4 linked regions of the Homo sapiens genome follow. The protein of the gene in region 4 interacts with the protein of the main gene of each other region in a pairwise test. Each region holds a gene or a part of one and is shown on either strand. Other genes may lie near its edges. The genes, in order: LAPTM4B, UBE2U, SCAMP4 and CGRRF1.

Evidence for each region.
Region 1: the proteins of CGRRF1 (region 4) and LAPTM4B interact in binary tests that used the Homo sapiens proteins (3 or more experiments, as listed by UniProt).
Region 2: the proteins of CGRRF1 (region 4) and UBE2U interact in a two-hybrid assay, tested with the Homo sapiens proteins (one large-scale study listed by BioGRID and IntAct).
Region 3: the proteins of CGRRF1 (region 4) and SCAMP4 interact in binary tests that used the Homo sapiens proteins (3 or more experiments, as listed by UniProt).

Annotation. Positions count from the first base shown.
Region 1 is NC_000008.11:97,817,245-97,820,811, forward strand, and holds part of LAPTM4B (lysosomal-associated transmembrane protein 4B), read left to right. Parts: intron 1-1,895; coding exon 1,896-1,994; intron 1,995-3,567. UniProt on the Homo sapiens protein: Required for optimal lysosomal function. Blocks EGF-stimulated EGFR intraluminal sorting and degradation.
Region 2 is NC_000001.11:64,202,212-64,206,449, reverse strand, and holds the start of UBE2U (ubiquitin-conjugating enzyme E2 U), read right to left. Parts: upstream 2,828-4,238; 5' UTR 2,400-2,827; coding exon 2,334-2,399; intron 1,910-2,333; exon of another isoform or gene 1,667-1,909; intron 812-1,666; coding exon 730-811; intron 1-729. UniProt on the Homo sapiens protein: Catalyzes the covalent attachment of ubiquitin to other proteins.
Region 3 is NC_000019.10:1,918,871-1,922,437, reverse strand, and holds part of SCAMP4 (secretory carrier-associated membrane protein 4), read right to left. Parts: intron 3,550-3,567; coding exon 3,448-3,549; intron 1-3,447. UniProt on the Homo sapiens protein: Probably involved in membrane protein trafficking.
Region 4 is NC_000014.9:54,516,351-54,519,917, reverse strand, and holds part of CGRRF1 (cell growth regulator with RING finger domain protein 1), read right to left. Parts: intron 1-3,567. UniProt on the Homo sapiens protein: Able to inhibit growth in several cell lines.

The sequences.
Region 1 (3,567 bases), on a different chromosome or scaffold from region 4:
TCTCAACCTCTTGAGTAGCTGGCACTATAGGCATGCACCACCATGCCCACCTAATTTTTCTTTTTGTATCTTATGTAGAGATGGGGTTTCACCATGTTGCCCAGGCTTGTCTCAAACTCCTAGACTCAAGTGATCCTCCAGCCTTGGCCTCCCAAAGTGCTGGCATTATAGATGTGACTCACTGTACCAGGCCAACTTTACTTTTTTTTTTTTTTTTTTTTGAGACAGAGTCTCACTCTATCACCTAGGCTGGAGTGCAGTGTTGTGATCTCGGCTCACTGCAACCTCCGCCTCCCTGGGTTCAAGCCATTCTCCTGCCTCAGTCTCCTGAGTAGCTGGGATTACAGGCACCCGCTACCAAGCCTGGCTAATTTTTTGTATTTTTAGTAGAGATGGGGTTTCACCATCTTTTCCAGGCTGGTCTCAAACATTTAGCCTCAGAGGATCCACCCTCATCGGCCTCCCAGAGTGCTAGGAATACAGGCGCCCACTACCATGCCTGGCTAATTTTTGTATTTTTTTTTTAGTAGAGGTGGGGTTTTGCCATGTTGACCAGGCTGGTCTCGAACTCCTGACCTCAGGTGATCCGCCCACCTTGGCCTCCCAAAGTGCTGAGATTACAGGCGTGAGCCACCATGCCCAGCCTGCAACCTCAATCTTCTGGGCTCAAGTGATCCTTCCACCTTAGCCTCCCAAGTAGTTTGGACTACAGACATGCACCACCATGCCCGGCTAAATTTGTATTTTTAGTAGAGATGGGGTTTGACTATGTTGTCCAGGCTGGTCTCAAACACCTGCACTCAAGCAATCTGCCTGCCTCAGCCTCCCAAAGTGCTGAAATTACAGGCATGAGCCACTGTGCTTGGCCAAGTTATTTTATTAATAAAAGAGTAAAGTTGCATGATCTGATCACAAAGAATGACGATTTTATTTCTTAGATATTTTGTCCCAAGTGAAAGGAGACTGAAAACCATTAGGTGGTGTTCACCCTGGTGAGCAGGAGCCAAGCCCATGAGTCATGGGCCTTCTCCATGTTCTTCCTCAACATTGGAAACAACTTTGTTTTGGAATATTGCTCGTGAGGAATCCAAACACATAGTGTTGAATGGTGAAGGGAGATAAAAGATGAGATAGCACAGTAGGCTGCCTTCCCATTCACTTGCCTAGGCCAGTGATGTAGGCGTTGATCAATGCTGTGTGAGTGTTCTGTGGGGAAAGTCCGGCAACTCCCTCTAACCATAGTAGCAGACTTTGATCCTCCTGAAAAGGTTCCCTTTGACCTGGTTGTTAAGCATTGTGGATGGTAGTGCTTGATTATTTCCCCCCACCCTGGAAGTACTTGCTAGTATAAGAGAATATGCTGTCTTGGGAGAAGTACCATCAACAAAAATGCTCTTTGCAAAGAAGACCTCATTTTAGTAGGTTTCTGTCCCTTGCCCTGCATATGCCCTTTAGAATGGTTCAGAACTTTTGAGACATGGTCTGGCTCTGTCGCCCGGGCGGCTGGAGTGCAGTGGCATGATCTCGCTCACTGCAACCTCCACCACCAGGGCTCAAGTGATTTGCTCACCCCAGCCTCCCAAGTAGCTGAGCTGGGCGACAGAGAGAAACTCCATCTCAAAAAAGAAAAAAAAAAAAAAAAGGAATGGTTCAGAACTTGCAGAGAATACAAATTTCAGAGATCCCTGGATATACAAAATGTCCCTGGATACCGATCACTGACGTCTTTTATATGGTAAGAGGGCAGAGTCAGGCTAGAAATTTTGTATTGGTTCTAAATAATAGCTGTCTGCTTTAATCAGTTGCTTTCTGATAAGCATGTCTGAATTGGTGCCCAAGGAATACTGTCTGGAATGATTAATGAGATTTGCTAATGAGGCCCTTTTCTTTTGCAGCCTCCTAATTTTCCCTACAGAGATGATGTCATGTCAGTGAATCCTACCTGTTTGGTCCTTATTATTCTTCTGTTTATTAGCATTATCTTGACTTTTAAGGTAAGCATGAAGATTTTACTTATAGTCTAAAAATATTAAGTGTATTCCTGAATACCAAATAAGTAAACAAACTTTGGTCAGTTTATTGTCTTTCTTTGGACATCCAAATTGCTTTTTGATTTCCTAAGATTACAATTCTTTATGCTGTCTATGTTGGAGGTAAACACTAATCAAAATTCCACAGTTTGATCAAGGAGTCCAAAATATATTTGGACAGAGATAAGTTAACATAATGTTATACATTACATAGTATATGATATTGCAACGTCTGTTACAAGGTCTGTGTAATGGATATTCTTTTGTAATTTTTTGCTAAAAGTGTAATATTTTCTGAATATTGTTCTATCTCAATCCATTATATGAATATCATTATTTAATAAATTACTTGATGAGCATTGAGACATTTTTTACTTTTTCACTTAATAGGGCTGTAGTGAATATATTTAAGTACATCCTTATATTTATGCATTTATCTCAAGATAAATTTCCTTTTTTTTTTTTTTTTTTTTTTTTTGAGATGGAGTCTCGCTCTGTCGCCCAGGTTGGAGTGCAGTGGCGCAACCTCGGCTTACTGCGAGCTTCGCCTCCCGGCTTCACGCCATTATCTTGCCTCAGCCTCCCCAGTAGGTGGGACCACAGATACCCGCCACCATGCCCAGCAAATTTTTTTGTATTTTTAGTAGAGATGGGGTTTCACTGTGTTAGCCAGGATGGTCTCGATCTCCTGACCTCATGATCCGCCCACCTCGGCCTCCCAAAGCTGGGATTACAGGCATGAGCCACTGTGCCCGGCTTCAAGATAAATTTCTTAAAATCAGGGTGTTCATGGTTGGAAAGCCTTTGATAGGTTGTCAAATTGATGTCCCCCAAAGTTAAATGACTTCTACTTCCTGCAGCAGTGCCTCACCCTTATCAATCAATTGCTGCAAATTCTTTTTCATCTTGGTCAATCTGTTTATAAAACCATCATTATAACTTGTGCTTATGAGCTACTAATGGGTAGAAAACTCTCATGGCTCTTTATGCTTTCAACTTTTTTCTTTTTTTATTTATTTTTCTTTCTTTCTTTTTTTTTTTTTTTTGAGGTAGGGTCTCTCCCTGTAGTCTAGGCTGCCTCCTGCCTTGGTTTCCCAAAGTTTTGGGATTACAGGTGTGAACCACTGCACCCAGCATACTTTGAATTTTTGAATCTCAATGCCTTTCATTGTCTTAATTTTGGCATAAAATTATGTCATTCTTCAAAAATCATGCCTCAGTAAACTTGGGAAAGCTGCATTGAGGCAGAAAATTCATATAGGTACTGTGATGAAAAGGAGTAGAAAGAAAGTGGTTCATTGGAAACCAGTTGGCCAGGTGAAATGGCTCACACCTGTGATCCCAACACTTTGGGAGGCTGAAGTGAGAAGATTGTTTGAGCTGGGAGTGTGAGGCTGTAGTGTGCTATGATAGCAGCACTGTACTTCAGCCTGGGTGACAGAGTGAGACCCCGTCTTGTTGTTGTTGTTGTTGAGACAGAGTCTCACTCTGTCACCTAGGCTGGAGTGCAGAGGTGCGATCTCGGCTCACTGCAACC
Region 2 (4,238 bases), on a different chromosome or scaffold from region 4:
CTACAAGTCTTTGCTGTGCTGTTTACTCTGCCCGAATTTCCTTATCCTTCTTCTGAACCTGGCAGATTCTTCAGGACTCAACTCAAATGTGATCTCCTTGGGAAGACATTCCTGACTCCCTCAGGCATAATTAACTAATCCTCTTCCTCTTTAGCATTCTGTTCAAAATCCATAATAATGTATATTTTATTGTAATTATCAGCTGATGTGTTTGTCTCCCCTACCTCACTCAAGGAATCTATCTTATTAATCCATAATTGAAAGAAAACATGAGCATTAAAGTTTATAGTGGCTTAGTGTTCTTGAGATTTTTTGATTTATGAAAATTTGGGGGAAAATCATAAAGGAAAAAATGAGAAGTAACTGTGGGGTTTTGAAGCCAATAGGAATTTTGATAGTTATTCCCTGATCTCACGGAAGGCAGACGATATTCTCTCAATTGATATGCTCTATTGTGTCTGCTTCTTAAAAATGTAATAAAATTAAGATTTGGCATAAAGAAAAATACCCCAAATTTCCATCTATGTTGACACATGGCAAAAAAGTCATAAATAAAAAAAATGGGAATATTTTTAGAATTTTAGACAACTGGTATAATGCAAACTTATGCATATGAAGAAGAATTTCAGGAAATTTATATAATGCGACCTTATCCTACATAAAAAGAGGATGGGCTAATAATGGTATAAAGACTTTTTTAAAAAATAGATTGGTTTTGAAAATACAAACCCTGCCAAACTGAATTCTGTAGACCTTCAATTTCAACTTCCCATTCCATCATATCTTCACTTACAGGCTTAGCAGTGATACCCTTGAAGTTAAAAACAAAATTAAATCAGAAAAAACTTATTAAGTATTTATTGAAGTTTTGAAAATCATATACCAGGTCACACTGAATTCTAAAAACTCTAAATTTTCTTTCCTTGATAAGTTTATTTATTTGCTGCTCTGGGGAAGTGTTACATGTCTTATTTCACGGAAGTTAATATAGATCCCAGAAAACATATGCAATAGTAATTAAAAATAAATCATAAGTGTGGAAATCACAAGTGGGACTAGAGAGTCAAGATTAGAATGTGTGGCTTATATACTGTTTGTGTAAATCAATAACCAATTTAATATTCAAATTTTAAAAGAAAGAAATAGTTGGAAAGTGCATGTTTCTTCAAAACATTTTAGAGCTATATGAATGCTATATGAAAGGCATGAAGTGGGAACATTTTCATTAAGAAAAAATCCAAAATTACACTTGTATATAAAAGCAAAGTTTTCCTATACTTGAGGAGTTGTTCCAATGGAGGGACAAGAATGTATTTCATAGAAAACCTTATGAATTACGTTAAGTAACACACTTACAAACACATAAAAACACTTCTGAGCATCCACATAGTTATTAAGTATGTTAGTGCTTGTCTGGGTGAGCCCTGTCTCTCTATTATCTATATTTACATATTCCTTCATTGGATTCTCTTTCAACAGAGAACTACAGAGCTCAGGATGAGCAGAAACAATATCAAATGTTAGGTCCATGCCCCAGGAATGTTCGCTGTTGGACTCCATAATTGTTCCTAACATCTCCAGTGAATGCAGTACTTTTATAGCAGAGGTAAAAAATGAACAATGCCACTGAACTACACCTGAAGCAACTGTGGGAAGCACTCTATACCTTTCATGGACAGCTTTCTTTCTGTTCTTTCTCTTAAGCACTCCCTCTTCGCCCCCTCTTCCATTTTTCATTTTCCGTAAATCAGCCTGTGGCAGCCATGGACATTGATAACCTCATTGGTGGCGTTTAAGCCCAAGGACATTGCTTCTTTTGTGTTAAAACTATAAAGGGAAGGCATTTATGTGTCATGCTGGTAAAAGTACACTAGACAGTAAGCAGTGGAACACAGGAATTAAGAACTAGGGCTTTGAAGTCCAAAAACCCTGTAATGGAATCATGGGGCAAAATCTTTACAGAATATTTCTGAGGCTTAGGTTTTTGGTAAGTAAAATGAAATACTACTTATTGTATAGTATTATAATTAATGAGCATAAGCCTGCACCTACTAGTCACTAACTACATGACAGACCCTGATATTCAGTGCCTAGATCCACATAAATTACTCTGCATAATATGTTCAATATTGTTAAGCATTATTATTTTGAAGTAATAATAATTGTTATTAATATGAAACACATTACTTCAGTGAAATGGATTTATTAAATAACAATACTGTAGTGGCAAATCAGGTTTAACTAAATTACTACTTATAGAATAAAATGGGTTAAACTGCCTCTTAAAAATTATTGCACAATGAAACACATCTCTCCACGTGCCCAGTACTTACCTTATAATTGTTCTCCTTGAGATCACAGAAGTCTCTGTGCAGCAAGAGGTAAGCTCTGCCGTGCATGATAGGCAGCGGAGGGTCTGACACTTGTCCCCAAATGCCTCAGGTTTACTCTGAGGCAGATGTTTGAAGTTATGGGTCACTTTCCCACACTTAGTAAACTGATATAAGTTACTTGCTTTCTAGAACCTCAGAACGGTACCAAGATAAGCGGCTTCTAAAGTTGGGATATAACAATGACTTTTTCTCCTGACTCCTCTAAACGAGAACTTCCCGAAGGAAGACTTGGGCACTTCCTCATCTGCGGCGTTTCACTGCAGTGCCGGCTCACAGCCCAGTCTCAAGACAAACTTGGATGAGTAACGGAGACAAGCCCATGTCGTCGGCGCGTGAGTGGGAGTGAGAGGTGTACGCCTATCAGGGTCCTAGCAGGTTGTCTTCGCTTCACAGGTGCAACCCCGCAGCCACGCACCGGAGGAAGCAAATCGGTTGCCAACCAACAGGCCCCCGTGGGGCCGCCGAGAGACGGAGGCAGGGGGTTGGCCGCTCTCACCCAATCAGCGACAGGGGGCAGGCCTCTTGCTATCTCCACAGCCAATCCTACAACAGTTTCCCCTTTGAAAGGCCAATGAGATTCGTGGTCAAGGCAACACCACGCCTTCTCAGGCCACGAACATGGACTGTACAAAACTAGTGTAGAGGATGGGGTGAGGTCCCAGGACCCAGCATGTAAGTCACAGAAGCCGTCCCACGAAGTCTTTCTTCGAAATTATCCTTCCTTTTTCTTTGACTATCAAAAGATATAGTAAGTGACTGGTAGGTACAGGTCTGCATAACAATATCTTAACTTACATGGCGAGTTACCATTCACAGTAGTGTGCATGCTATTATGTCATCAAACCCTACAATCACCCTGGGAAAGTGCTCCAGGAACAGGGAACTGCTTAAAATTTCTCTGATTCCCATCTCTTCCCGCACAGTTTCGCACCTGCTGTTCCTTCTACCTAGGAGTTTACCACATTCCTTCCACCCCTTCAGCCCTCATTTCCCCTTCACTCACTCATCCTTCAGATTTTAACGACTCTTTAAGGGATCCTTTCTTTTGTGATCCCACAGGACCTTCTATTTGCCTCCTAGTTAACATTTGCCATACGGCATCACAATTGTCTATTGTCTTCACCAGAGTGGGAACTACTGAAAGACACGGTTCCATTGCCAGCGCCAACTACAAAGCCTGGCATCTTTGTTCAGAATACTTTCTTTTTTTACTTTTTACTTACTAATTTTATAGAATCCGGATGTTCATTTAGTCCATTCATTTTACAAATATTTATTAAATACTTTTTTTTTACTTGAAAGATTCAAATGAAGTAAATGTCTTTATGGCTCCAATATACAATAAACAAGTATGCAAAACAAAAATCATGATTTCAGATGGTGATAAACGTTATGTGGACAATAATAAAACAGTACCATGATAGAGATTGGGGTAGGTCATTAAGGATTAGAAATGGTAGTCAGGAAATGCCTCTGTAAGGAATGGGGTTTTGAACTCATACATGAAAGATGAGAAGGAGCCTGCTACATGAAATATTGAGGGCAGAGAGTTCTAGGAAGAGGAAAACAAGATATTTTTGAGTCAGGAAAGAGCTTGTCTTGAAAAGGGAACAAGGGAAGGTCAGGGAGGTTGTGGAGGAGCCTGGGAGGGGTGTGATAAAGATGGGCACTATACAGTAGGAAGTTTGGGCTTTATTTGAATAGCTATGGGAATCCATTTAATGGGTTTAAACAGGAGAGTGTCATGCTCTGATTTATTTATTTATTTATTTATTTATTTATTTATTTTATTGATCATTCTTGGGTGTTTCTCGCAGAGGGGGATTTGGCAGGGTCATAGGACAA
Region 3 (3,567 bases), on a different chromosome or scaffold from region 4:
CAAGGTGAAACCCCGTCTCTACTAAAAATACAAAAATTAGCCAGGCATGAGGGCGCATGCCTGTAATCCCAGCTATCTGGGAGGCTGAAGCGGGAGGCTGCAGTGAGCCGAGATCGTGCCGTTGCTCTCCAGCCTGGGGGACAGAGCAAGATTCTGTCTCAAAATAAAAAAACGAGGGAAAGCACTGCTTAGATCAGCCACCAGTGGGACACTGGGAAGGCCAGCACGCCCTGGGTCCCTCTGTGCAGGACCAGCCTCTGGGCATTGCACCTGCCTTTGAGACCCAGGAGGCAGAAAACAGTCATTTTGAGATTTTTGTCTTAACAGGTGATGAAACCACAGGGTTTAAAATTCAGGGAACTTAAAGGCAGGCACGACGTACAGTCTCTCTCCTGCTGACTCCCCTCCCTGGTGCACAGGCAGCCCGCAGGACCCACACCCCCGGATGTGTCCGGGGAGCTTATGCACACACATGCACGGGGCGTGATATGCACGCACACGCGGTACCCCCCGCCGCGTCCCTGCAAGATGCTGGCCTGTCCTGTGTTCGCCTGCTTGGAGCCTCCACAGCATCACAGGCTGCATGGTCTTTGGGTCATTCCTTCCTCTTTTTTTTTTTCTGGAGAGATGGTTTCTCCCTATGTTGCCCAGGCCAGTCTGAACTCCTGGCCTCAAGCAGTGATTCTCCTGCTTTGGCCTCCCAAAGCGCTGGGATTACAGGCGTCAGCCACCATGCCTGGCCTCTTTTATTTTTTAAAAAAGTAAACCTCTGTTTGGATGTAATTTTAGATTTATGAAAAGCGGCAAAGGCATTTGAGGACTCCTGCCGCCGCCCCCGCAGCTTCCCACTGGCCAGCATCGCACGCCCCCGCATGCAAGTGTCAGGTCTAGGGAGGCACCCAGCACACTGTCAGTGGGCTGCATGCTCCGCTTAGAGGCTGCGGCGCCCGCTGATGTCCGATTCCTGGCGGGGCCCACCGGGGGCCCCTGCTGCACCGTGTCCTCAGTACCTGGCTGCCGCCATGTGGCCACCCTCACCATCTACACAGCTAGGCCCCGCTGGGGGTCATTTCTCTGGAGTTTCCAGTCCTCTGCCACCACAGATGCTGCCGTGGCTCATGGCCTCGGGCATGCGTCACCCCTGGGGAGGTGACGCTGGTGAAGCTGCCCGGGGCAGGGAGAGCGGGGCTGTCGCCTCTTGCCCCACAGCAGTGCACAGAGTGTGTGGGGAGGTGGCGCTGGTGAAGCCGCCCAGGACAGGGAGAGCGGGGCTGTCCCCTCTCGCCCCACAGCAGCGCACTGAGCGTGGGGCCTCACTAAGCCAACGGTGGACATGAAGTCGCTGTGCGCTGTGGTTTGATTTCTCTCATTACAAGGGGGGCCGGGCTCTCCTAAGACCCGCTGGGTTTCTTTCTCAAGAGCGTTCACCTTCTGTCCACCTCGGGCAGGGACCGCATGCTCAGCTTCTCCCGTGACCTGCGGGAGATGACCCAGGCTCCAATGAGAAGAGCCAAGTCGCTGCTGCCGCACGTGCACGAGGGCCGAGGGGGCAGGGAGGTCTCTGAGGGTCACATGTGGGCACTCACCTCATGCCGGGATCTCAGGACCACCCAACACGGGCACAGGCCTGTCCACCCAGCTCAGCCTGGGAGAGCTGGGGACGCACCGGGGAGGCGGCTCACAGGAGGCACTGGAGCCCAGGGAAGGGCCAGTGGGAGCCGAGCTGGCAGCTGGGAGCTCAGGAGGACTCGGAGGATGACGAGCAGTGCCTTGACCTGCAGCCACAGCCTCTGCAGGAGGGGGAAGCACCCCAAAGGCTGGCAGAGCTGGGAGTCCCAGGCACACGCTCACTATGACTCTAACTCAGATCCCTGGGGCAACGTCACTCAGGCTCTTGGGGTGGCAGGTGACAGACCAGCTTCAGCGGCACATCCGAGGGGTGCACAAACCACAGATCCCAGCCACCCTGGAGGGCCTGGCGCCAGGCGCAGGTGCAGGAGGGGAGAGGCCTGCAGATCGAGGGGCCCTGAAGGGAGAGGAGTCACCATCCCAGGAAACCTGGGACCTTATCTGGATTCTGATCTGTGCACTGGCGTGAGAGTACCGCAGTCTTGTGGGGCAGGAACCCCAGAACAGGAGCTTGCTAATGGGAGCCCAGGAAACCAAAGGCACCCACGGCTCCGTGAGCAGCGTCACCCGTGGGGAGCTCCCGCCGTGCCAAGGACAAGGGAGACACGTCGGGGACGTGGGCGAGAACAGTCACTCTCTGCAACTGAGAATTACAAATTATTCCAAAATAAAAAGCCTATTTAAAAAGCCACAAATTTGGCCAGGCACAGTGGCTCACGCCTGTAATCCCAGCACTTTGGGAGGCCGAGGCGGGTGGATCACGAGGTTAGGAGTTTCAGACCAGCCTGACCAACACATGGTGAAACCCCGTCTCTTACTAAAAATACAAAAATTTGCTGGGTGTGGGGGCACACACCTGTAGTCCCAGCTACTCGGGAGGCTGAGGCAGGAGAATCGCTTGAACCTGGGAGGTGAAGGTTGCAGTGAGCCAAGATCATGTCACTGCACCCCAGCCTGAGTGACAGAGAGCGACTCCATCTCAAAAAAAAATAATAATAGTTTAAAAAAAGGGCCGGGTGCAGTGGCTCACACCTGTAATCCTAGCACTTTGGGAGGCTGAGAAAGGCGGATTGCCTGAGCTCGGGAGTTCGATACCAGCCTGGGCAACACGGTGAAACCCCGTCTCTACTAAAATACAAAAGAAATTAGCCAGGCGTGGTGGCGGGCGCCTGTAGTCCCAGCTACTCGGGAGGCTGAGGCAGGAGAATTGCTTGAACCCAGGATGTGGAGGTTGCAGTGAGCTGAGATTGCACCACTGCGCCCCAGCCTGGGTGACAGAGCAAGACTCTGTCTCAAAAAAAAAAAAAAAAAAAAGAAAAGAAAAAAGGCAGAAATTTAAGACACCAACACAAACACTTCTGGGCACCTGGCAGCCTTAGAGAGTGACTGTGAGTTTCTCAGGTGTGGTAACAGCACCAGGTATGTGTGTTTTTACAGATGTACAGGTCTTCCTCCTGCAGCGATCCGTGCAGAAACATCAGCAGCCAGGAACTGGCTCCCAGACCCCGGGTCAGGGGTGTGATCAACACTCAGGAGACAAGCCTGGCTGGGCGCTGGCGAGGACGCAGGCACTGCCAGGGCGAGCTCGGACCCCTCCCTAGGAGAGTGCCTACAATCGCGAACCATGGCTGGGTGCTGGCGAGGACGCGGGCGCTGGCGAGGACGCGGGCGCTGCCAGGGTGAGCTCAGACCCCTCCCTAGGAGAGCGCGTACAATCCCGGACCAGCACGCTCCGGTGGCCGCCTGGCTTCCCAGCAGGCCCACAACCTGGCAGCTGAGCCACATCACAGCCACCACGCCCATCAGAGAGAGGCTTACCACGCGCCCCAGCCGGAGAAGCCAATCGCCTGGATGACGGTCAGGACAAACTGGGCTCCGAAGATGAAGAAAAACGCCATGAAATTAAAGGAGCTGTCGGCTCTGGGGAGGGACAGAAAA
Region 4 (3,567 bases):
TATGTAATAGAGAAATTACAGTAAAATGCTGATTGTAGAATCTAAGTGATGGGCAGATGTGTGTTCACTGTGTAATTCTTTCTAGTATTCTGTATGTTTGAAAATTTTTATAATAAAATGCTGGGAACAAATACCTTTATGGATCCAAAAAAAGCAAAGAAACAAAGTAATGAGTAAGGCTATGCCATGGTTTCATGGTTCTCAGTCTGGCAGCAGACAGTGGCAACCAAGCCTTCATGTACTAAGGAGACCAGCATAGGCTGTCTTCTCCAGACAAGGGCCAGAGCCAGGTTTATAACTTGGAACCAGGAGCTGGATTAGGTCAATACAAAAATACGCAGAACTGTCGTTATAAGACTTGGTCCTAGGCTGGGTGCACTGGCTCCTGCCCATAATCCCAGAACTTTGGGAGGCTGAGGAGGGAGGAATGCTTGAGCCCAGGAGTTCGACACCAGTCTGGGCAACAATAGCGAGACCCCATCTCTACAAAAAAAAAAAAAAAAAAATGGAAAATTAGTTGGGCATGGTGGTGTACACCTGTGGTCCCAGCTACTTAAGAGGCTGAGGTGGAAGGATCGCTTGAGCCTGGGAGGTCAAGACTGCAGTAAGCAGAGATTGTGCCACTGCACTCCAGCCTGGGCAACACAGAGAGATTCTGTCTCAAAAAAAAAAGGCCAGGCACAGTAGCTCACGCCTGTGATCCCAACATTTTGGGAGGCCAAGGTGGGCAGATCACCCGAGGTCGGGAGTTCAAGACCAGCTTGAACAACATGGAGAAACCCCGTCTCTACTAAAAATACAAAAAAAATTAGCTGGGCATGGTGGTGCATGCCTGTAATCCCAGCTACTTGGGAGGCTGAGGCAGGAGAATTGCTTGAACCCAGGAGGCAGAGGTTGCAGAGAGCCGAGATCATGCCATTGTACTCCAGCCTGGGCAACAAGAGTGAAACTCCGTCCCAAACAAAACAAAACAAAACAAAACAAAACAACAAAAACCTAGTCCTGGTCTGGAGGTCTAGGAATCTGGGTATAAATGAATATAAAATGTTTTTGCAATCTATCCATCTGACAAAGGTCTAATATCCAGAGTCTACAAGGAACTTAAACAAATTTACAAGAAAAAAACAACCCCATTAAAAAGTAGGCAAACCACATGAACAGACACTTCTTAAAAGACATTCATGCAGCCAACAAACATGTGAAAAACAGCTCAACATCACTGATCATTAGAGAAATGCAAATCAAAACCACAATGAGATACCATTTCACGCCAGTCATAATGGCAATTATTAAAAAAATCCAGAAACAACAGATCTTGGCAAAGTTGTGGAGAAAAAGAAACACTTTTTTTTTTCTTTTTTTTTTTTGAGATGGAGTTTCGCTCTTGTTGCCCAGGCTGGACTGCAATGGCATGATCTCAGCTCACCGCAACCTCCACCTCCTGGGTTCAAGTGATTCTCCTGCCTCAGCCTCCCAAGTAGCTGGGATTCCAGGCATGCACCACCACGCCTGGCTAATTTTTTTTTGTATTTTTAGTAGAGACGGGATTTCTCCATGTTGGTCAGGCTGGTCTCAAGCTCCCGACCTCAGGTGATCTGCCCACCTCGGCCTCCCAAAGTGCTAGGATTACAGGCATGAGCCACTGCGCCTGGCCTAAAAGAAACACTTTTGCACTGTTGGTGGGAATATAAATTAGTTCAACTATTGTGGAAGACAGTATGGCAATTCCTCAAAAATCTAGAGGCAGAAATACCATTTGACCCAGCAATCCTATTACTGAGTATATACCCAAAGGAATATAAATCATTCTATTATAAAGATACATGCATGCATATATTAATTTCAGCACTAGTCACAATAGCAAAGACATGGAATCAACCCAAATGCCCATTAGTGATAGACTGGATGAAGAAAATGTGGTACATATGCACCACAGAATACTATGCAGCCATAAAAAGGAACAAGGTCATGTCCTTTGCAGGAAAATGCGTCAAGCTGGAAGCCATTATCCTCAGCAAACTAATGCAAGAACAGAAAATCAAACATTGCATATTCTCACTTGTAAGTGGGAGCAGACAGTGAGAACACATGGACACATGGAGGGGAAACAACACAGACTGGGGCCCATCAGGGTGGGAGCTGGGGGAGGGAGAGCATCAAGAATAGCTAATGGATGCTGGGCTTAATATCAAGGTGAATGGTTGATCTGTGCAGCTAACCACCATGGCACACATTTACCTATGTAACAAACCTGCACATCCTGCACATGTACCCCAGAACTTAAAAGTTGAAGGAAAAAATAAAATAAAATACTCAACTAAAAATAATAATAATAATAATAATTGCAAAGTGGATAAACAGTGAGGGTGATAACAAAGGGAGAAAAGTAACAAAACAAAACGAATCTTCCACTAAAATTTAGGTTGAAAACTAAAGTTTCAAAACACACAAGTCTAACACTGAAAGATAACCAATAAAATTAACAAATGAAATAAAAATTCACTTTTGATGACTCTGATTTTATAAAAGAGTTGGGTAAGACTGCTCTGGTCCTGCCTAACAAAGCTGAAAAGCAAGCCTCTAACAGACTAAACTATTTCTGAGTAACTTAACAGTGACCCAGAATAAAGCTCAAGAATATTTAGAGGAATACAAAAATATCCAGCACCTAGTAAGGTAAAATTCACAAAGTATAGCATCTGATAAAAAAACATTAACAGGCATGCAAAGAGCAGGAAAACAGTACCCACAATGAGGAGCAAAACTCTATAGAAATAGATCCAGAAATCATACAGATACTTGAATTAGTAGACAAGGATATAAAAATAGCTCCTAGGACTATATTCCATATGTTTCAGAAGAAAAGTAATGACTGCACATATGATATAGAGGCATGGAAGATATTTAAAAGGCCCAAATCAATATTTAGAGATGAAAAAGATAATGTTTTAGATAAAAAATATAGTGGATGAGATTAACAGCAGATTAGGTATTGCACAATAAAAGATTAGTAATCTTGAAGACAACATAACAGAAAGTACTGAAATTGAAACACAGAAAGGAAAAAGACTGAACAACAACAACAACAAAAAGCATCAGTAAGCCAACTTTTAGTCAGCCATGTAACTGAAGTCTTAACATATCACTGAAGTTTGCAGAGGACAGATAAAGTATTTGAACACATAATGGCGAAAACCTTCCCCAACATGTTGAAAACTATAAAAACCTACAGACCCAAGAATCTCAATGAGCTCCAAGCACAAGAAACAAGGAAAATTACCTAAGGCACATAATAATCAAATTGCTTAAAACCAGTAATATAGAGAAAATCCTAAGAAAAAGAAAGAAGATATGCTACGGTAGCCAAAGAAAAGGAAAAAAAGATATACTACACATAGAGGAACAAAGATAAGAATGTCAGTAGCTTTTTAATATTAATAAGAAGCAATGGAAGGCAGAATATCTTTAAAGAACTAACAGGAAAAAAATCTTGTCAATCTAGAATTCTATACCTATATTTTTCCAAAGCAAAATAAAGACTTTTTCAAACATAACAAAAGCTAAAAG